Linked DNA regions of Homo sapiens. The protein of the gene in region 1 interacts with the protein of each later gene in a pairwise test. Each region holds a gene or a part of one and is shown in the gene's direction. Other genes may lie near its edges.

Region 1 (5,035 bases):
GCCCGCCACCACGCCTGGCTAATTTTTGTATTTTTAGTAGAGATGGGGTTTCACCATGTTGGCCAGGTTGGTCCCAAACTCCTGACCTCAAGTGATCCACCTGCCTCGGCCTCCCAAAGTGCTGGGATTACAGGCATGAGCCCCCACACCCAGCCCTATGGTTTTTAACAATTTGTTTTTGAAGCAGTTCTACTGCTAACAAAGTTGAAAATCACTGCATCAGGTGGCCTGTGACATTCCTTTTAGCACCTCTGTTCTCCGGAGAGACCTATCCGAGATTCCTTGGGCTTTCTAAGCTACTCCTCCCCTTTTTAGAGTCATCCAGTGCCCTGGGATGCAGGTAGGGGCTGACGCCTCCCCTTTGCAGGTCCCTCCTGGGTGATGATGTCTTCAGCACCATGGCAGGCCTGGAAGAAGCTGATGCTGAGGTGAGCCTGGCTGTTTCCCTCCACCTCCCTACTTATCCCCAGAAACACTGAGATGGGTGTTGTGGCCAAGGGGCTGCCCACGGAAGGGTTTAGAAGTCCCTGCAAAGTCACTTTGTTCTTTTTGTTTGTTTTTTGAGATGGAGTCTCCCTCTGTTGCTCAGGCTAGAGTGCAGTGGTGTGATCTCGGCTCACTGCAACCTCTGCCTCCCGGGGTCAAGCAATTCTCCTGCCTCAGCCTCCCAAGTAGCTGGGCTTACAGGTGCCTGCCACCATGACTGGCTAATTTTTGTTGTTGTTGTTTTTGTTTTGAGATGGAGTCTCCCTCTGTCGCCCAGGCTGGAATGCAGTAGTGCGATCTTGGCTCACTGCAATCTCCGCCTCCTGGTTCAAGCGATTCTCCTGCCTCAGCCTCTTGAGTAGCTGGGATTACAGGCACCCACCACCACGCCTGGCTGATTTTTGTATTTTTAGTAGAGATGGGGTTTCACCCTGTTGGTCAGGCTGGTCTCAAACTCCTAACCTCTTGATCCACCCACATCGGCCTCTCAAAGTACTGTGATTACAGGCTGACCCACCGTGCCCAGCCAAAGAAAATAATTTTTGTATTTTTAGTAGGTAATTTTGTATTTTTAGTAGAGACGGGGTTTCACCACATTGGCCAGGCTGGCCTCAAACTCCTGACCTCAAGTGATCTACCCGCCTCGGCCTCCCAAAGTGCTGGGATTACAGGCGTGAGCCACTGTAAATAATGCCCAAGGGCTGCCGAGTGGACCCAAAGCAGAATCCTCTTTCCTGTAGTAAGATGAGTGGAAAGGAGAGCTCCCTGAAACTGCTAGAGTCTTAGATGTTGCTCCTTTCCCCTTATAAACTCCATAGCTGTCCATTGGCATGGGTGGGAAGTAGCAGAATTTCAGTCCTGGATGGAAGAGTTCTCTATGGTTGGAAGGAGTAGGAATGGCAGTGCTCTCTGAGTCTCTAAAACCAGGCAGGTTTGGCTTCAAACAACTGCCAAGCCCAAGCAAGGGGAACAAAGCCACCCTCCTGTGTAAGCTCCATTGGCCAAGCTCTGCTCCTGCCGCGCCGTCTGCCCTAACAGAAGCAAGGGGCCAGGACCCTGAGTTTTATTGGGCCTTGACTAATGTGCCTCCTCATCTGTGTCCTCACCCTCATTGTGGACTTAGGTTTCAGGTATCTCAGAGGCAGACCCACAGGCTCTGCTCCAGGCCATGAAGGTAAGGAAACAGCTTGCACGATTCTTAGAACTGGGGGTGGGTGGGGTGGGGTCATGATATTTTGTACCAAAGCTTCATTCTCCTTCTAATTTCTCCCTTTACAACCTGTGTTTCTGAGCCCTTCCTCGTGCAAGCATGGAACTCGTCTGTGAGCCGTTGGCCTCCTTGCCTTTCTGAGTATCAACCAGTGTTCCTGGTATATAGAGAGTGGAGAGTGCCACAGGCCTCTGGGGAAACGGGGCCAGCTCTACTCGGAGGCCCACCTAGCTGGGTCCCCTCACCTCCACCTAGAAGACAGAGGGGGAGACTCTTTCCTCTAATGCTTGTTCTTAATCTTTCTCCATATTTCTCTCCACATCCCCTGCCAAGCCCCCTTCAATACTGCTGTCTTCTCATCAGATCAAGCCCAGCGCCAATCTTTGCAATGGATTTTTAAGGCACAGATTCTGAATAATTTGTAAGGACATAATCTCTAGCTTGGCCTAAGACACCTTGTTCTCCCTCTCCTTCCAGCCAGCAGCACCTTCCTGTCTGACCCTTGGGGTTTTGTGTCCCTTTTAGTTAACCCATTTTGCCACAGTCCCTAGGACAAAGCCGCGTTTTTGGTTACAGCCCTGTGGGGCTCTTGTTTTTGTTGTGTATTTTTGTTTTTTGGGTTTTTTTTTAGAGACACCATCGCATTCTATCACCCAGGCTGGAGTGCAGTGGTGTGATCTCATTGCAACCTTAAACTCCTGGCCTTAAGCGATTCTCTTACCTTGGCCTCCCAAAATACTGTAATTACAGGCATGAGGCACCACACCCGGTCCAGATTCAGCTTCTTTAATCTCATCTTGAAATCTTTCTCCTCAAAGGCCAGGCACCTGTAATCCCAGAACTTTGGGAGGCCGAGGCAGTAGGCTCGCTTGAGCCTAGGAGTTGGAGGCTGCAATGAGCTATGATCACACCACTGCACTACAGCCTGGGTGGTGACAGAGTGAGACTCTGTCTTCAAAAAAAAAAAAAAAGTCTGGCATGGTGGCTTACTCCTGTAATGCCAGCACTTTGGGAGGCCATGGCAGGTGGATCACTTGAGCTCAGAAGTTGGAGGCTGCAATGAGCTATGATCGCACCACTTCACTCCAGCCTGGGTGACAGAGTGAGACTCTGTCTTTATTTTATTTTATTTTTAATTTATTTTTATTTTTTTGAGACGGAGTCTTGCTCTGTTGCCTAGGCTGGAGTGCAGTGGCATGATCTCGGCTCACTGCAACCTCCACCTCCCAGGTTCAAGCGATTCTCCTACCTCAGCCTCCCAAGTAGCTGGGATTACAGGCGTGCACCACCACACCCAACTAATTTTTGTATTTTTTGTAGAGACAGGGTTTCATCATGTTGGCCAGGATGGTCTCGATTTCTTGACCTGGTGATCCACCTGCCTCGGCCCAAAGTGCTGGGATTCTAGGCATGAGCCACCGCGCCCGGCCAATATCCTGTCTAAAAAAAGAAAAAAAAGAAAGCTTTTTTCCCGAGACCAGCCACCTAGGATCCCTGGGCATAACCCACAAGTCCTCTGACTCAATTTTTGGTGCTGACTTTGAGTCTCTCATCCCAGAACCATGAGCTGGACTCCATTCCACCTCCCCCTGCTTACCTTTAGTTCCATTTTCTTTCTTCACTCACTGTTTTTCTCAACAGTTTTCTCATTTTCCTTTGTTTTCTCACAATTCTACACCTGGGGTGCCAACAGCCCATCTCTCTCAGGTGGAAGTCCTCAGCCCCTTATCAGACATAGTCCTCTGCCCTCCCTCCCTGGTTTTCTAGGACCTGGACGGCATGGATGCTGATATCTTAGGTCTGAAGAAATCTAATTCAGCCCCTAGCAAAAAAGCTGCAAAGGACCCTGGGAAAGGAGAGCTGCCCAACCACCCCAAGCCTGCAGGTGGGTCAGTAGCCAGTGAGAAAGGTGCATGGGAGACGGCTCCTCGCATCTGCTAGGGAGACTTTGAGGACGTGGAAGATGCTAGTAGGAAGCGTTCATGTCCTTGGGTTTTCTCTGCACAGGATGGAGAGGCCAAGGAGCATTTGTGCGTGTGTGTGTTTGAGTGTGTGTGGTGGGGTAAGGGGACAGCTTGAGTTTCCTCCCTTCCTCGAGCTGTTCCAGGCCCTCTGGGTCCAACATGGGCAGCTCCTGGAGAAGCTGTGTGAGTTAAAATGGAGAACTCTATGGCAGCCTGTGCCTCTCCTGAACCCATGTCTCTGGAGTGACTCATGATGAGGAAGCAGAGGTAGCTCCTACCTCGTTTCCCTGCCAGAAGCCCATGGCAGAACTGGAGACTCCTCCCTTGGCTGTGCCCATGGCCATGAGCCCCCAGCTTCCCAGGAAGAAGTGCACCCCATCCCAGGGGCCCCAGTCCATGATATGGGAGGAGGACTTTGGCCAGGAGAGACTCAGGCCCATGACCTTGTCTTCTGCTTCCTGCAGGGGGTGCCATTCCCACCAAGAAGTCACTTCCGTCTCCCAGCAGCTCTGGGCATCAGAACAGGAGGTTTTCCTCTGAAGGTACCATAGGCTCCTGTCATGCCTCTGGGACACTCTGGTTTGGGAGTGGAGCAGCCTAGGCATGCTTGCTGGCCCGAGGCCCAGCTGCTGCCTATGTCACATGGGTGCCACTGGTTTACTTCCTCGTGAATTCATGTCGGGACCAGCTATATTGTATTGGCTGAGATATTAGGGAACTTATTTGCAAAGACCTTAAAGCCAGGCATCAAACTGAAGATCTTCCCAAGTATAGGAAGGAGCCCCTTTCCCGTCATGAATGTGTGGATATTTTACTTCTCTTCTGATGCTTGAGGGACATTTCCAGAAGGCCATGCAGCCTGCAGAGTCAGAGGCCCCACCGGCAAGCCTGAGGCAGGCCCCGTAGGTCCAGGGCCGCCCTCCAACTCCCTCTCTCCTTGCCCGGCCTGTCTTTTTGTGGAGTCCCCGTTGCCCCAGGCCCCACCCTCCAGATGCCAGGGGGCTTGTTTATGTACTGGAGCAGCTAGAAGCCTTGACTCGAGCGCTGCTCCCCAGTTCAGGCTTGCTTTTCCTCAACTAAGTGCTGCAGTCTGACCTGTGCTTTCCCTTCTGCTGTGAGACTTGGAAGACCCATTGAGAGGACTTCTCTCCTATGATGAAGGAGGAATCACCAAGCAGCCGCCTGTGACACAGAGTAAAACAGCTTCTGACAAGAGCCCCAGCACAGTGAGAGATCAAGGTAGGGTGGAGTGGGCTCATTTCCCATCCTGGAGGAAGAGTTTATTGGCAACAAGCTAACCAGCCTTTCTGGTGCAGAACCAGAGGCCTCTCCCAGGTGGGGACCAGAGGTCTAAGGTCCAGTACAAAGAGATCAT
Region 2 (4,372 bases), on another chromosome or scaffold:
AAGCCAATGCCATTCCTCATTTGGCCTGAGCAGCTCAGAGTCAGGAAGTCAGAGCGCAGGTGAGTGTGTGTGCTCTTACCTGTGTATGTTACCTGTCTGTGTGCCTTGGGGAGGAGTGAAAAGGGGGACGACTAGGTTATTGTTGTGTGTGTTTTTTAAACTTTGCAGTAATTATTCAAATCTGAACTCTGGTTCTGCCGCCGTCCTTTTCAGAGCTTCGTGGCTAGACTTATGTCTAGAGGATCTCTGTGGGATAGGCTCTCTCTGCACAAGAAGCTTGAGCTTTTGCCAGGCCCAGGGAGTCCTTGGTGTTTATCTCTGCTGTCACCCCCGAGTCCATCCCATGTGGTCAGGAGGTGTAGTTCCTGTTTTAAGTGAGATGGTGAGGGGGAAGGGGTCTCTTGAATGCTGTTGTGGGGAGGAGGCTAGCCTTCTGCTGCAGACTTCAGCCTCATTCTGAGCCGGTCCAGATGAGTCTGGCCAGCAAACCCTGAATCTTTGACCAATGAGACCCTCAGCTGAGTCTGTGAGAGGCAGCTTTGGAAATTCCCCACTCTCCAACTCAGGACAGCAGTGGAAACTGCTTTCTCCATTTATTCCCCCAGTTGCCTTCATGAGGAAGATGGGTTGGTCATGGCATGGGGGCTGCAGTGTCTCTGTAGAGGGACGCCTTAAGGGATGCCACGTTTCCACTCTCCTGTATTATCTTTTTTTTCTTTCTTTCTTTCTTTTTTTTTGGCAGTGCCCTCATTCTGGTCAGGGGCAGATGTAGTAACAACTTTACACTTGATATTAACTGCCGAACTGCCCTCAACCAGAATTGAAATCAGGTGTAAGAAAAGGAGGCTTCCCCTTACCCCGCGCCCCCATCCACCCCATCCCCCCATCCCCCCCCCCGCCCCCAGAGAAAACATACCATTGAACCCAGCAATGTGGACCCAGTAAGGAGCAGAAAACCCAGCTGCAGCCTGCTTGTGGGAGCATGGGGAAACAAGCAGGGCTTTTCCTGTTTATCTCTGTCTGCTTCATCACAACATGTTTACTACCGGGTGCAAGGGACTTCCAACCAGATGTGACTTGGGGACTTTCACAGTTTGATTTGCTGTGTGGTCTTGGGCAAATCACTCAACTTTTCCGAGCCTTTTTCTGGTGAAAGGGACTAGGAATATCGGAGTGTGTCCAAACTTATTTATTTATTTATTTTGAGACAGAGTCTTGCTCTGTCACTCAGGCTAGAGTGCAGTAGCATGACCACGACTCACTGCAGTCTCAAACTCCCAGGCTCAAGTGACTCCCCAATCTCAGCCTCCCAAGTAGCTGGTACTACAGGCACACGCCACCATGCCTGGTTAATTTTTAAATTTTTTGTAGAGACAGGGTCTTGCTATATTGCCTAGGCTGGTCTTGAACTCCTGGACTCAAGCGAAACTCCTGCCTCATTCTCCCAAAAAGCTGGGATTACAGGTGTGAGCCACCGTGCCCAGCCCCTCCAAACTTGCTTTCCAGTGCTGGAAAAATTGTTTTCCAATGCTGGCACAGTTTTCCAATGATAGAAAAATTCCATTATTGACTCTGGAACTGGGTAGAAGTTGACTTGTTTTAGATTTGATGGTGGTACCACAGAAGGGTGTTTAATTTTTAATGCTCCCCTACCTCATACCTGTGTTTGGTCAAGGCAGATAAGCAGTTCTGGTTTGCTTTTGTTTTCATTTTAAACTTTGGAGATGAGAACTTTTGGTATCTTAGTTCCATTTCTGTTTTCTCATGACAGCTCCAGGCACTGTGATGAATTAAGTGCATTGGAAGAAATCATCTTGAGAAAGGGGCAAAAATAATAATAATAATAATAAAGGACTCTGTGTAAAGCACCTCCGTAGAGGTTGGGGCGGTATTGGAAGAGGAGAGAATTTTTATCTTTGCCAAAGAAATCTGAATGGTGTTTAGTGACAGTTAGTGGTTTCATGGGCTCCTATGGTCTCCCTCTGTTCCTTCAGCACTGTGGACCATCTTACTGTACACTGTAAATTTCTGCTACAGTGCCCTGGGATCTGTGATTATAGGGTGGGAAGGGCCAGTGAAAAGTAGTAGTTAAGCAGCAATTTTAAAACTGTAATTGAAAAATAACCTAAAAATGGACATTGCCTCACAGGAGGCTCATGCAGATACATTGAGGGCCTTCTCAACTGTTCCACACACCTGTGGGACCTTCGGGGAAAATCTCAGTAGACATCCTGCAACAGGAGCACAACAATTCAGTCCCATTCTTCAGCCACTTGCAGCTTGGATTCCTGTTGAAACACTCGAGTTCATGTTTCGATTCATTTGTCCTTATTGCCCAGCCTTTTGCTGCTAACAGATTCCCTGCTTGTTGGGAGGAGATGCTGGGGTTGCTAAGCCACAGAGAGTGCTGGCTGACCAAAAGTACACCACAATTCTACAGCAAGAAAACCCAGTTCCATTGCATATGGGAGGAGAGGTGGGGCTTAGGGGAATACTGCAGACAGGGAGCACACATTCCTGCTAAGAATACAGCATACGGGCCGGGAGCGGTGGGTGGCTCATGCCAGTAATCCCAGCACTTTGGTAGGCCGAGGTTGGTGGATCACTTGAGGCCAGGAGTTTGAGACCATCCTGGCCAACATGGTAAAATCCTGTCTCTACTAAAAATACAAAAATTAGCCAAGTGCAGTGGCACACACCTGTAGTCCCAGCTACTTGGGAGACTGAGGTGGGAGGATCGCCTGAGCCCAGGAGGTTGAAGCTGCAGTGAGCCATGATCATGCCATTGCACTCCAGCCTGGGCTACAGAGCAAGACCCTATCTCAAAAAAAAAAAAAAAAAAAAAAAAAACACAAAAAAACACACACACAAAAAACAACAACCGAAAAAAAAAAAAAAAACCACAACGTGTGGTAGATACTTCTGAGGCCCAGGATGAGTGGCCAAGCATAAGAGTGAGCTGGTTCTATCCTGATATGTGATGGAAGTCTGAAGGCACGGGAGGAAATTACCAACCTCCCCACCTCTCTCACAGTGGGAAGAATTGAGTCTTTCCTGAAAGGAGGTGTCTGGGGATGCTGGCCATGGGCTTTCCCCCTGGACTTCCCCTAAGGTTCTCTTTCCTCTCACAAAAGCCCCTTTAAGTAATTTCCCTGGAGATTTCTGAGCAGTATTAATATATTTCCCTGAAGAAAAAGGGGGAGCTCCAAATTCCATCATTCCCCTCCTGGTTTGAAGCACTTTTGACTCAAGACTCATTTGGGTTCCAGTTCATGTTCCAGTCACACCATACACTGGTCTTCCTGCCTACTTAGTGAAGAGCAGGAAAGATAATTCGAAGCCAGATATCTGAGAGAAAGTCACAACTGAGTCCTGTGTGGTTCTCCCTGCTGGCTCTCCGCCTTTCCTGGTGGTCACAGGCAGCTTCCTCCCACTGTGAGTGGCGTGTGTTCCTTCACCACTCCTGCAGAGAGCCCACTAGAGAAGGGTTCATGCAGTCAGCAGATACCACCTTCAGCAGGAAAGGTGCTGCTGAATTAAATTGTGAAACATGCTTATAAAAGTGCCTGAAAACATGTACGCAGTTTAAATAACAGAAGCAAAGCAGACACCTCATCTACCCAAGTCAAGGAAAAAAAAAAACTGACATTCCCGAGAAGCACCTGCTTGTTTTCTATTTGTTTATTTCTTATATATATATTTTTTCAAGGCTCAGGGTTTTGATAAAATTTATAGGTCTCAGTTTCTCCTTTTTTTTTTAAAGGGTAGTCAAATGAAGCAGTGAGAGTGGAGAGTTTCTTCATTTTTTAAATGAAGGAGAAGACAAGCTACTTCATAAGAACGTAGGTGGAATGAAGATATGTACGTTCCCTGGGGCTCTCCAGGAGTGTTGTGATGGTTGCGATGGCTCTCTGAGGGCCTGCTGCATCTTGAGGCCCAGTAGATATGTTAAGGCTTGAAGATTCCTGCAATCTCAGGTGGGAGCCGGACGCCTGGGATAAGTTTTATCAGAGGAGGTAGAATTGAAGTATACCTAAAAACAAGGACATGGGAGGCCAGGCGTGGTGGCTCACACCTGTAATCCTAGCACTTTGGGAGGCCGAGATGGGTGGATCATGAGGTCAGGAGATCAAGACCATCCTGGCTAACACAGTGAAACCCCATCTCTACCAAAAATACAGAAAAATTAGCCAGGCATGGTGGCGGGCACCTGTAGTCCCAGCTACTCTGGAGGCTGAGGCAGGAGAATTGCTTGAACCTGGGAGGCGGAGGTTGCAGTGAGCCGAGATCGTGCCACTGCACTCCAGCCTGGGCGACAGAGCGAGACTCTGTCTCAAAAATAAAAAACAAAACAAACAAACAAAAAGGAAAT
Region 3 (4,820 bases), about 34 Mb from region 1:
TTGGGCAGGAGGGCCGGGCAGGGTCAGGGGTTAGCCTGAATCCCTGGCCTCGCAAGGCTGTTAGAACACTGGCAACGTGCCCTGGCTCTGTCCCTGCTGATACCCCTGCGGGAAGCACAGGCCCGCTTCTCTACCCCAGAAAACAAAGGCCCAGAAAGCCCTGACTCAGATTTCTCCTTTCTGATCTTGCTGAATCAGTGAAGGGGGTTCCAGGAGAACCTCATGCCTGTGCCACCCCACCCAGCCCCTGGCCTGGTATCATCCAGACCTTTGTGGCTGCTGTGGGCCAGAAAGCTGCTCCCAAGATGCCATCCACAGCAACCCTGGCCCCTTGGTGAGTGGGGCCTGGGAGTCTGCATTCAGGGTCCTCCATTGTCAGCCCTGGAATGGAGGACCTTCTATCCTGGCCTCACAGATGCCATCTGAGGTCCTTTTCTCCCAGCCTGAATGGGGAAGCTCCCTCTGGCAGGGTTCTTACATAGTCCCTGAGTTTCTCAGCCACATCTCAGGATCCTAAGCTGAGACCCTGGCCCTGGGTCCTGTGTCACATCCTCTTATGTGGCCTCTTGGCTGGGACAGACCTCATATGACTGGCGTACTAGAAAGGACCCTGCTCACATTATTACAGGGCCGTCTTCCTGGATGTGACTGTGCCCTAAAGCAGTCAGCGTAATGGAGTGATTCAACCCGAGGGCCAGACTGACCCAGGCATCTCAACCTCAACACTATTGATATTTTGGGTCTGATAATTCTTTGCTGTGGGGACAGTCCTGCACCTTATAGGATGTTTAGCAGCATACCTGGTGTTTAGCTATCAGTAGTGCCCCCAAGTTGTGACAACCAAAATGTTCCTAGACATTGTCAAACGTCCCCTGGAGAGCAAAGCAGCCTCTAGCTGAGGACCTCTGAACTTGTCTATGGGGACAGAAGTTGGAAGAGTGGTTACACCAGGGGTGTGGAGTCAGGTAATTGACTGGGAAAAGGTACAAGGACCTTTATGGAATGCTGGGAATGTCCTGGGTGGTGTTTACACAGGTCGTGCATACCCATGCGTGACATCAAGCTGGACACGTGATCTATACATTTTACTGTATGAAAAATGTACCTAAAAAATGCACCTTAGCGTCAGACAGAACCAGACTTGGATTTCAGTCCTGATTCTGCCCTTAAGGTTCATTTTCCTCATGTGTAAATGGGGGCAATAGTAGGACCCTCCTCCTGTGGCTGCTGTGAAGGTTAAATGAGATGATGAGTGTAAAGTAACTTCACCCAGTTCCTGCCTATGGTGAGGGCTCGGAGAATATTCGCTATGATAATGGACAGGGCCACTTCCTCTTTCCATGCCTGAGTTTCCACAGCTGTGTCTGATGGTCCCTAAGATCCCTTAAGGTCTCTGTCACTGTGACTTTTTCTGATGGCCTCGGAGCTATTTCTTTCTCAGTCTAAATACTTTCAAGGCAGGTGATTCTATCGAACCAAGCAAAGTTTGTCATCAGAGTTGCTGGGGCCCCTGGAGTAGATGAAGTGCTAAGAAGGATCCAGGACATCCCAGTCAGAAGTTTTAGGTATAGAAAAAAGGAAGGTCGAGGGCTACGGTGACCTTGCAAAGCACAGAGCCACTCTGCACCCACCACTTTCCTCGCAGAAGCTCCTGGCAGGCCTCCGCATCTCAGGTCCCGTTCTAATACTGGGTGGGGCTCAGAGCCTGCACAGTGAACTCCTTAAGTGGAGGTGAAACAGAATTCACTTGTCAAAAGGGCAGTCTCAGGCAGAATGCTGTCCCCTCTGAATCATTCTTTTTGTTAAGGATTAAAAAAAAAGCCACCCCCAAAAGGCACAACCCACCCTGGAGAGATCAGAGATAACTAAGCTTGTGGGAAACAGAAGTGTAGTTGGCACCAAGTCAGAGGGTGGGGAAGGGAGGAGAGAAGATAACCAGCCCCTATGGAGGTGTATAAAAGGTGTCCACTCTGGGGAAGAGCCACAGTCCTCGGCCCAGGCCAAGCAAGCTTCTATCTGCACCTGCTCTCAATCCTGCTCTCACCATGAGCCTCCGCCTGCAGAGCTCCTCTGCCAGCTATGGAGGTGGTTTCGGGGGTGGCTCTTGCCAGCTGGGAGGAGGCCGTGGTGTCTCTACCTGTTCAACTCGGTTTGTGTCCGGGGGATCAGCTGGGGGCTATGGAGGCGGCGTGAGCTGTGGTTTTGGTGGAGGGGCTGGTAGTGGCTTTGGAGGTGGCTATGGAGGTGGCCTTGGAGGTGGCTATGGAGGTGGCCTTGGAGGTGGCTTTGGTGGGGGTTTTGCTGGTGGCTTTGTTGACTTTGGTGCTTGTGATGGCGGCCTCCTCACTGGCAATGAGAAGATCACCATGCAGAACCTCAACGACCGCCTGGCTTCCTACCTGGAGAAGGTGCGCGCCCTGGAGGAGGCCAACGCTGACCTGGAGGTGAAGATCCGTGACTGGCACCTGAAGCAGAGCCCAGCTAGCCCTGAGCGGGACTACAGCCCCTACTACAAGACCATTGAAGAGCTCCGGGACAAGGTGAGCCCTTGGAAGCTGAGGAGGGGTCCTCCATGAAGGGCAGAGCCTCCAAGGCCAAGAAACACAGTGTTGTGGGGGACTAGGTGTGGACGGAATTCACAAACTTCTTGCAGGGGAAAAGCCTACTGTTTGACTACCAAGAGTCTCTACCTCTGATGGGCTTTCTCATGCCACAACTCCCCAAATGCATTTTCTCTCATTATTCATTTTTATGATTGTTATTACTCAGGTCAGTTTTTTTACTGCTTTCCAGACAGTTATGTTATTCATGACTCGATCTCTATAATCCTAACCTACTGAGTTATCTGGAAACATGACAGGTTTAAAAGCCATTAAGAATGCATGAAATCAACAGAGAAAGAGAGACGTGTTCATTCATTGCCCTGGGAATAATTGTTTACTTTGTAGGGGACCCATTCAAACTGGTATTCTCAACTGGCGATGGCCAAGTTGGGGGAGAGAGAGGCAGAGGCTTAGGCAGTGCCGAGCCTGGGTGCCCTTTGTTGAGCCCTGTCTGTTGTGCTGTGATACCAGCCTGTTGGAGCAGAAATCTACCAGCCTGGGCTGAGTCTCAGCCATGTGGAGCAGGCTTTCACTGCTTTGGAATATAAACGTTTAGACAAGAAATTCAAAGGGATGGGAATATTTGTTGGATTTCCCCTCCACTCAGCTGGGAAGTCAGCTCTAGCAAAGTGATTGTGAGATATGTGGCACCAAGCCGAGTCCCTCCTGACTTTCAGGGGATGGATCTCAAGACAGTGGCCTAGGGAGGGTGCTAGTCTGAGGCTGCCAAGACATGACGAACCAAAGATGTTCTCAGCAGGTCGTTCCTCAGAAATGCACTCCCTGCATCTCCCCCAGGGTGCTCAGACATGGAATATTAAAGTGTTAGAAACGATTGGAGGGGATGCAGCCCCACTCCTCACTTTACAGAAGAGCAATGGAGGCCCAGAGGGAAATGCCTTGTCCCAGCTCACAGGACAGTTTAGAGGTAGAGCCCCATGGGAACCAGGTCCTGCCCATGTTTTCCCAGGCCACCTCCTCAAGCACGTGGACCCCCCAGAGCAAGCTTGTCTAACCTGTGGCCGGTGGGCTGCATGTGGCCCAGGACAGCTTTGATTGAGGCCTAACACAAATTTGTAAGCTTTCTTAAAACATTGAGTTTTTTTTTATTTTTTATTTTTGCCAATTTCTTTTTAGCCCATCAGCTATCGTTAGTGTTAGCGTATTTGATGTGTTGCCCAAGACAATTCTTCTTCCAATGTGGCCCAGGGAAGCCAACAGACTGGACACCCATGCCCTAGAGGTTACCTTCTTCTGCATTTTGTAGATCCTGACCGCCACCATTGAAAACAACCGGGTCATCCTGGAGATTGACAATGCCAGGCTGGCTGCGGACGACTTCAGGCTCAAGTGAGTTTTTTTTTTCCCCCTCCCTCTCCTTTCCCAGGAGTCTCTTAGTTTAGACAAAAGCTCATCTGACCAATGACACTGGAGCATCCCAGGAGTGAAGGTCTGGAAGTACTGGAGTCTCGTGCAGGGGTAGGGAGAATGTCTCATATCATTTATGTCTTGCTTTTTCAAAAAACATTTCATTTTTTTACTATTTTAGGTATGAGAATGAGCTGGCCCTGCGCCAGAGCGTGGAGGCCGACATCAACGGCCTGCGCCGGGTGCTGGATGAGCTCACTCTGTCTAAGACTGACCTGGAGATGCAGATCGAGAGCCTGAATGAAGAGCTAGCCTACATGAAGAAGAACCATGAAGAGGTGAGCGGGAATTGCAGGCTGCCCTGGGCTCAACAACCTCCAGTGAGAAGGAGGAGCCCTCCCCTGCAACTGGACACAGTCCTCCACTGTGGGACCTGGAAACACTCTCCAGAACACTCTGCCAGCACTCAGAGCCAAGGAGAGGGAGGATGAGTAGCCTCACACATCTTCCTTTCCCATCCCCACAGGAGATGAAGGAATTTAGCAACCAGGTGGTCGGCCAGGTCAACGTGGAGATGGATGCCACCCCAGGCATTGACCTGACCCGCGTGCTGGCAGAGATGAGGGAGCAGTACGAGGCCATGGCAGAGAGGAACCGCCGGGATGCTGAGGAATGGTTCCACACCAAGGTACCCGGCCCTCCCACCCCACATAGCCCATCCCATATAGCCAGGGGGGCCGGGCGGACACAGCCTCTTGGTCAGGCTGCTCGAGCTGAGCTTCCCCACCACCTTCTTCCTGCTTGCATTTCAGAGTGCAGAGCTGAACAAGGAGGTGTCTACCAACACTG
Region 4 (4,372 bases), on another chromosome or scaffold:
TATCATTTTCTAAGATAAGATCAATACTCTGCTTCAGTGCCAATTCCAAGATTAGTTTTAAACGAAGAAGAGGAAGCAGGTAGAACATTCCTAGTAAGACAGAGAGGAATAGAAAAGATCAGAGGGGTAAGTTGGAAAGTATGGTGGTAATCTCTTTGCTCTTAATTAAAAGTAGGAGATAATGGCCTTGGAAAACAGTCAGAGCTGAAGCAAACTCGGCCTGTGTTAGAGACTGGAGTGGAACTAAGTGTCGAAGAAGCCAGCTGGCCCTTGGGCCAAGAATTATGAAATAGATGGAGTTTAAAACAAGAAAGGAAGCTTTTAAAAGAAGGAGGAGAACACACTATAAGTTGTAGTTGACTTTTAAGAGGTGGGGGGATTAGGACTCCAAGTAAATGTTAGAGGGGATGAAAAAGAGCTAGGTAAGAGCACTCTAGCCAAGTGTAGGAACCCTGAGGGTGGGACACACCTCATACATTTGCAATGGTGACCAAGACCTAGAGGTGTGAGATGAGGATGGAGAGATGTAAAAGTTCAAATATACAGAGAGGATAAGATCGTGAACCCACGTGTACCTATGACTCAGGTTCAGCAATTATTAACTCTGATCAATATTGTTCATATATAATCCCACTCTGCTTGCTCTCTCCACCCCAGCCCCAACACATCTGGGATTTCATTTACAGAATATTTTAGTGTGCATTTGCAGGTCAAATATTGTTCTAAGGGGAATAGAAAAAACACTAGTTTTAAGCAAGAGAGTGAAAAAAAGTCTTAAGTTTTAAAAAGATTACTGTTTTATAATATTGAAAACAGATTGTAGGAGTCTGTAATATAAACCAGGAAATCCAGTTAGGAGGCACTATTGGAGTGGAAACGAAAGACAATGGTAATTGGACTAGGGTCATAATATGAAGGAAGAAATGCTTGGATTTGGGATCTATTTTGAAGTTAGACCAGTAGATGAGTTGAATATGGGAAGTGAAAGTTTATTTATTTTACAATCAAAAGATAATGTGTAAGCTTATAGTATTTTCTTACATAGAATGTTATTCAAACTTCTAAATTTGACCAGTCAGAACTATCTGTATAGATATAGACACAAATTCTAGCCACCATTCACAAATAATGCATTTTATATCTAAGAGATAGCATAACATAGTTGTCTCAATTGTTTTTATATATTTTAAATATTTAGCTTTTTACATCATTTTTAGTTGTGAAATATTTGACATAAACATTTCTTGAAGACATTGTTTTATGTTTAATAAAGTTCAGCATTTAGTACCTAAATCATAGGGTGTTGCAAGTTAAATGTTAATGTATGTAAAGCACTTAAAAACATTTAGTGACAGACTATAAAAATAAAAATATATGTAAACAAATATAAACATGCTTTTTTTGTTTCTGAGTGCTCCACTAAACAACATCCGTGGCATAGAAACAATTTTGGAGCTTAAAGAAATTCAAGGTATTCATTGTTAACTAGCCTCTAAGAATAAAACAAACAGAAAAAAGTTTTATAACTAATAGAGAAGCTGTGCAGCCTGACTTGGTTCTTCACATTTTAAATTATTTGATAAACTTGGTTCTCTTGCTCCTGAAGCATTTTGGATCTCGGTTTATATTAATATTGCAACAAAATAATTAGGAGTATTTGTAGCTAATTTCTACAACATCCTCATTGTTCCTTCACTGTAGAATGGAATTTTATATAAAGGCTGTGCCTTAGATTCCAGGCAAGGAGACTTGTGCGTAAGTTACCTAAAAAACTTAGTTTGATCATTTGTACAGGGATTCTGATGACCGAATTACTATAAGTATTGGTAAATAAATTTATAGTAATTTGGTCATCAGAATCCCTTGTACAAATGATTAAACTAGGCATGCACTACTACTCCCAGCTAATTTTTTGTAGAGACAGGGTTTCACCATGTTACTCAGGCTAGTCCTGAATTCCTGGGCTCAAGCAGTTCGGCTGCCTCAGCCTCCCAAAGTGCTAGGATTACAAGTGTGAGCTACTGCTCCCAGCCGTTTTTTTTTTCCAAGTAAAATTTTAAATTATATTTTTGGCCTAGATTTTTAGAATTAAAAGGAACTTATTTTTTTTGAAGAGTGCCACATTATGAGGTTAAAGTACAAAAGAAGGAGAGGATAGTCACTAAGATCTGCCTTTCTTTTCCCAACAGTTCAATCAATGTACTGAATATAACTGCTGAAGAAATTAAACCAAATCAGGTTGGAGGAGAATGTACAAATCAAAAATGGAGTGTGGCATCAAGACCTGGATCACAGGAAGGTTGCTATAGTGGATGCTCCTTGAGCTACACAAATTCTCATGTAGAAAAAGATGACTTACCTTAGACATGTGGACTGGAATTTTTTTCATTAATGTGTTCATCAAGTTTCACATCTAAGTTGAAACAGGGTGTGTCATAAAGTCAGTTATCTCTAATAACTTAAGATGGTCTGAGTTGTTTGTTTGGACTTCCCTGTCTTCCCCCAAAGAGTTGAAATCTTAAATCTATTTAAAAGGATATAAAAGCTTTGGATATGTATTTTTAGTAACAGAAGCATCTGGTTCTGTGAATAAAGGAATGTATAGATGTTTGGATGGAAACAAAAGCACTAGACTGAGTTTCCTCTTATAGGTATTAAAAATAGCACTTTTAGGAAACTGATTATTGTAAATGTTTAATTTTGTCTCAAATATAGTTGGCATTGGAAGTTTAGCCTTTACTTGAATGTATACTGTAGATTTTTAACAAAGCGAGTTCTATATTTATTATGTTTAGTGTGGTTTGAAATTACCTCTTTCATATGTTTTAAATAAAGTGAAATTTATGTATGTTTTGTACATAGATACACATGATTATGTTAAGAGGCTTTAAGATTTAAAAGTTTCACACAACCATAAGTATAGTATTTCATGCCAGTAAAATTTTTTTAGTGGTATTCTGTTTACAGATGTATTAGGACCATTGATGCATTACATTTAAGAATTCTCTTTAATACATCTGGGCAATAAATATTGAAAGGTATTCCATGAAGCTGAGTTCTTTAGATAATCAACACTACTAACATTACATTTTTGAGATTTTTATGACATTAGATTTTTATTTTGTATATGTAGAATATTATAATTTTTAAAAGGACTATTGATGATAGAAGAATAGGGGCAAGACGACAAAAGTACCTTTGAATAAAACAATTTAAGAAATTGGTTTAAGATATTGGATGATAGAAGATATTTAAGATATCTAGATGGTGATATTTTCCTTACAAGATGGGTACCAGTATAGTAATATCTGTATACTAACTAGGGCTTTGTATTGTCAATAATTTTTTAATAATTTTTTAATGAGGTATTTACCACTGAAGAAATATGATAATATAAAACCATCAAATTTTATAATTGAGATGATACTCTGGAAAAACATGTCATTTCATTTTCAGAAAACTCTTAAGCTCTCTTCAGTCTCTGTAATGTTTCTGATTGCATGTTTCTTCATGAAAAGTATGTTGTTGTTTTGATAGTAATAATAATAAATGTAGGCTCAGCTCTTTCCCAGGATTTTCATCAAAAAGCTTTAAGTGCCTAACCCTGCTTGTCTCTGTACATAGAAGCCTGCACAGATCCAACCCTTGCTAGGTATCATAGTTTAGGCCCATTTACCTTCCCCTGTACTGGCAGTTCAGCCGCTTACATGCACTCACCCTGTTTGTGGCTATTTTAAATTCATATTATTAAAAAACAAAAAAAACCCACCTATTTGTGTTGTCCATTCACTATACGTAACTATGTAACTCTTTGGAGTTGCATAGCAGCAGCCATTTTTTCAGGGCTGATAGGATATCATTAAGAGTGTCTTATGAGACATTAGTGGATATACTCATAGTAACCATATTTATAGTTTTAAAGAGCTAGCTCTTGAGCATTAGTCACTACCTTCAGCTTGATGCATGGTCACTTCTTTACTATTTAAAATACTACACATTGTACAAAATATCGAAGACACTACCATATGCTAAAGGAAGAAATCTAGCTGGGATATAGGATTTTTGTTGTTTTTGTTTTTGTTTGTTTTGCTATTTAGCAATAACATGGTCAAAAAGGCAATCAGAAATTTTAAATACAGTTAATGGATACATTTGGCAACAATTTTCCCCCGAGGGTTTTCCATGGTGTACTTTGCAAGAAATAAGCACTCTAATTTTTAAAGTAAATCTCTTATTTTAGCAAATATTATATTTCATGACAATGGAGTTCTAGAAAGCAGCATCTGTTTTTTGTTGCGTGTTTCCATTTTAAAGTGAGTTGAGTTCTCAAATTGGAAAGAAAGATTCCTTGAGACGTACTTTTAAAATCTAA

Evidence for each region. The genes of interacting proteins can lie anywhere in the genome.
Region 2: the proteins of FBF1 (region 1) and TMCC2 interact in a two-hybrid assay, tested with the Homo sapiens proteins (one large-scale study listed by BioGRID).
Region 3: the proteins of FBF1 (region 1) and KRT13 interact in a two-hybrid assay, tested with the Homo sapiens proteins (one large-scale study listed by BioGRID).
Region 4: the proteins of FBF1 (region 1) and SSX2IP interact in binary tests that used the Homo sapiens proteins (3 or more experiments, as listed by UniProt).

What each region holds. Positions count from the first base shown.
Region 1 is NC_000017.11:75,926,622-75,931,656, reverse strand, and holds part of FBF1 (fas-binding factor 1), read left to right. Parts: intron 1-367; coding exon 368-428; intron 429-1,609; coding exon 1,610-1,660; intron 1,661-3,463; coding exon 3,464-3,581; intron 3,582-4,124; coding exon 4,125-4,202; intron 4,203-4,779; coding exon 4,780-4,899; intron 4,900-5,035. UniProt on the Homo sapiens protein: Keratin-binding protein required for epithelial cell polarization. Involved in apical junction complex (AJC) assembly via its interaction with PARD3. Required for ciliogenesis.
Region 2 is NC_000001.11:205,230,111-205,234,482, forward strand, and holds part of TMCC2 (transmembrane and coiled-coil domains protein 2), read left to right. Parts: exon of another isoform or gene 1-59; intron 60-3,666; exon of another isoform or gene 3,667-4,033; intron 4,034-4,372.
Region 3 is NC_000017.11:41,502,776-41,507,595, reverse strand, and holds the start of KRT13 (keratin, type I cytoskeletal 13), read left to right. Parts: upstream 1-1,983; 5' UTR 1,984-2,045; coding exon 2,046-2,540; intron 2,541-3,870; coding exon 3,871-3,953; intron 3,954-4,152; coding exon 4,153-4,309; intron 4,310-4,497; coding exon 4,498-4,659; intron 4,660-4,783; coding exon 4,784-4,820.
Region 4 is NC_000001.11:84,645,425-84,649,796, reverse strand, and holds part of SSX2IP (afadin- and alpha-actinin-binding protein), read left to right. Parts: intron 1-2,189; coding exon 2,190-2,364; 3' UTR 2,365-4,372. UniProt on the Homo sapiens protein: Belongs to an adhesion system, which plays a role in the organization of homotypic, interneuronal and heterotypic cell-cell adherens junctions (AJs).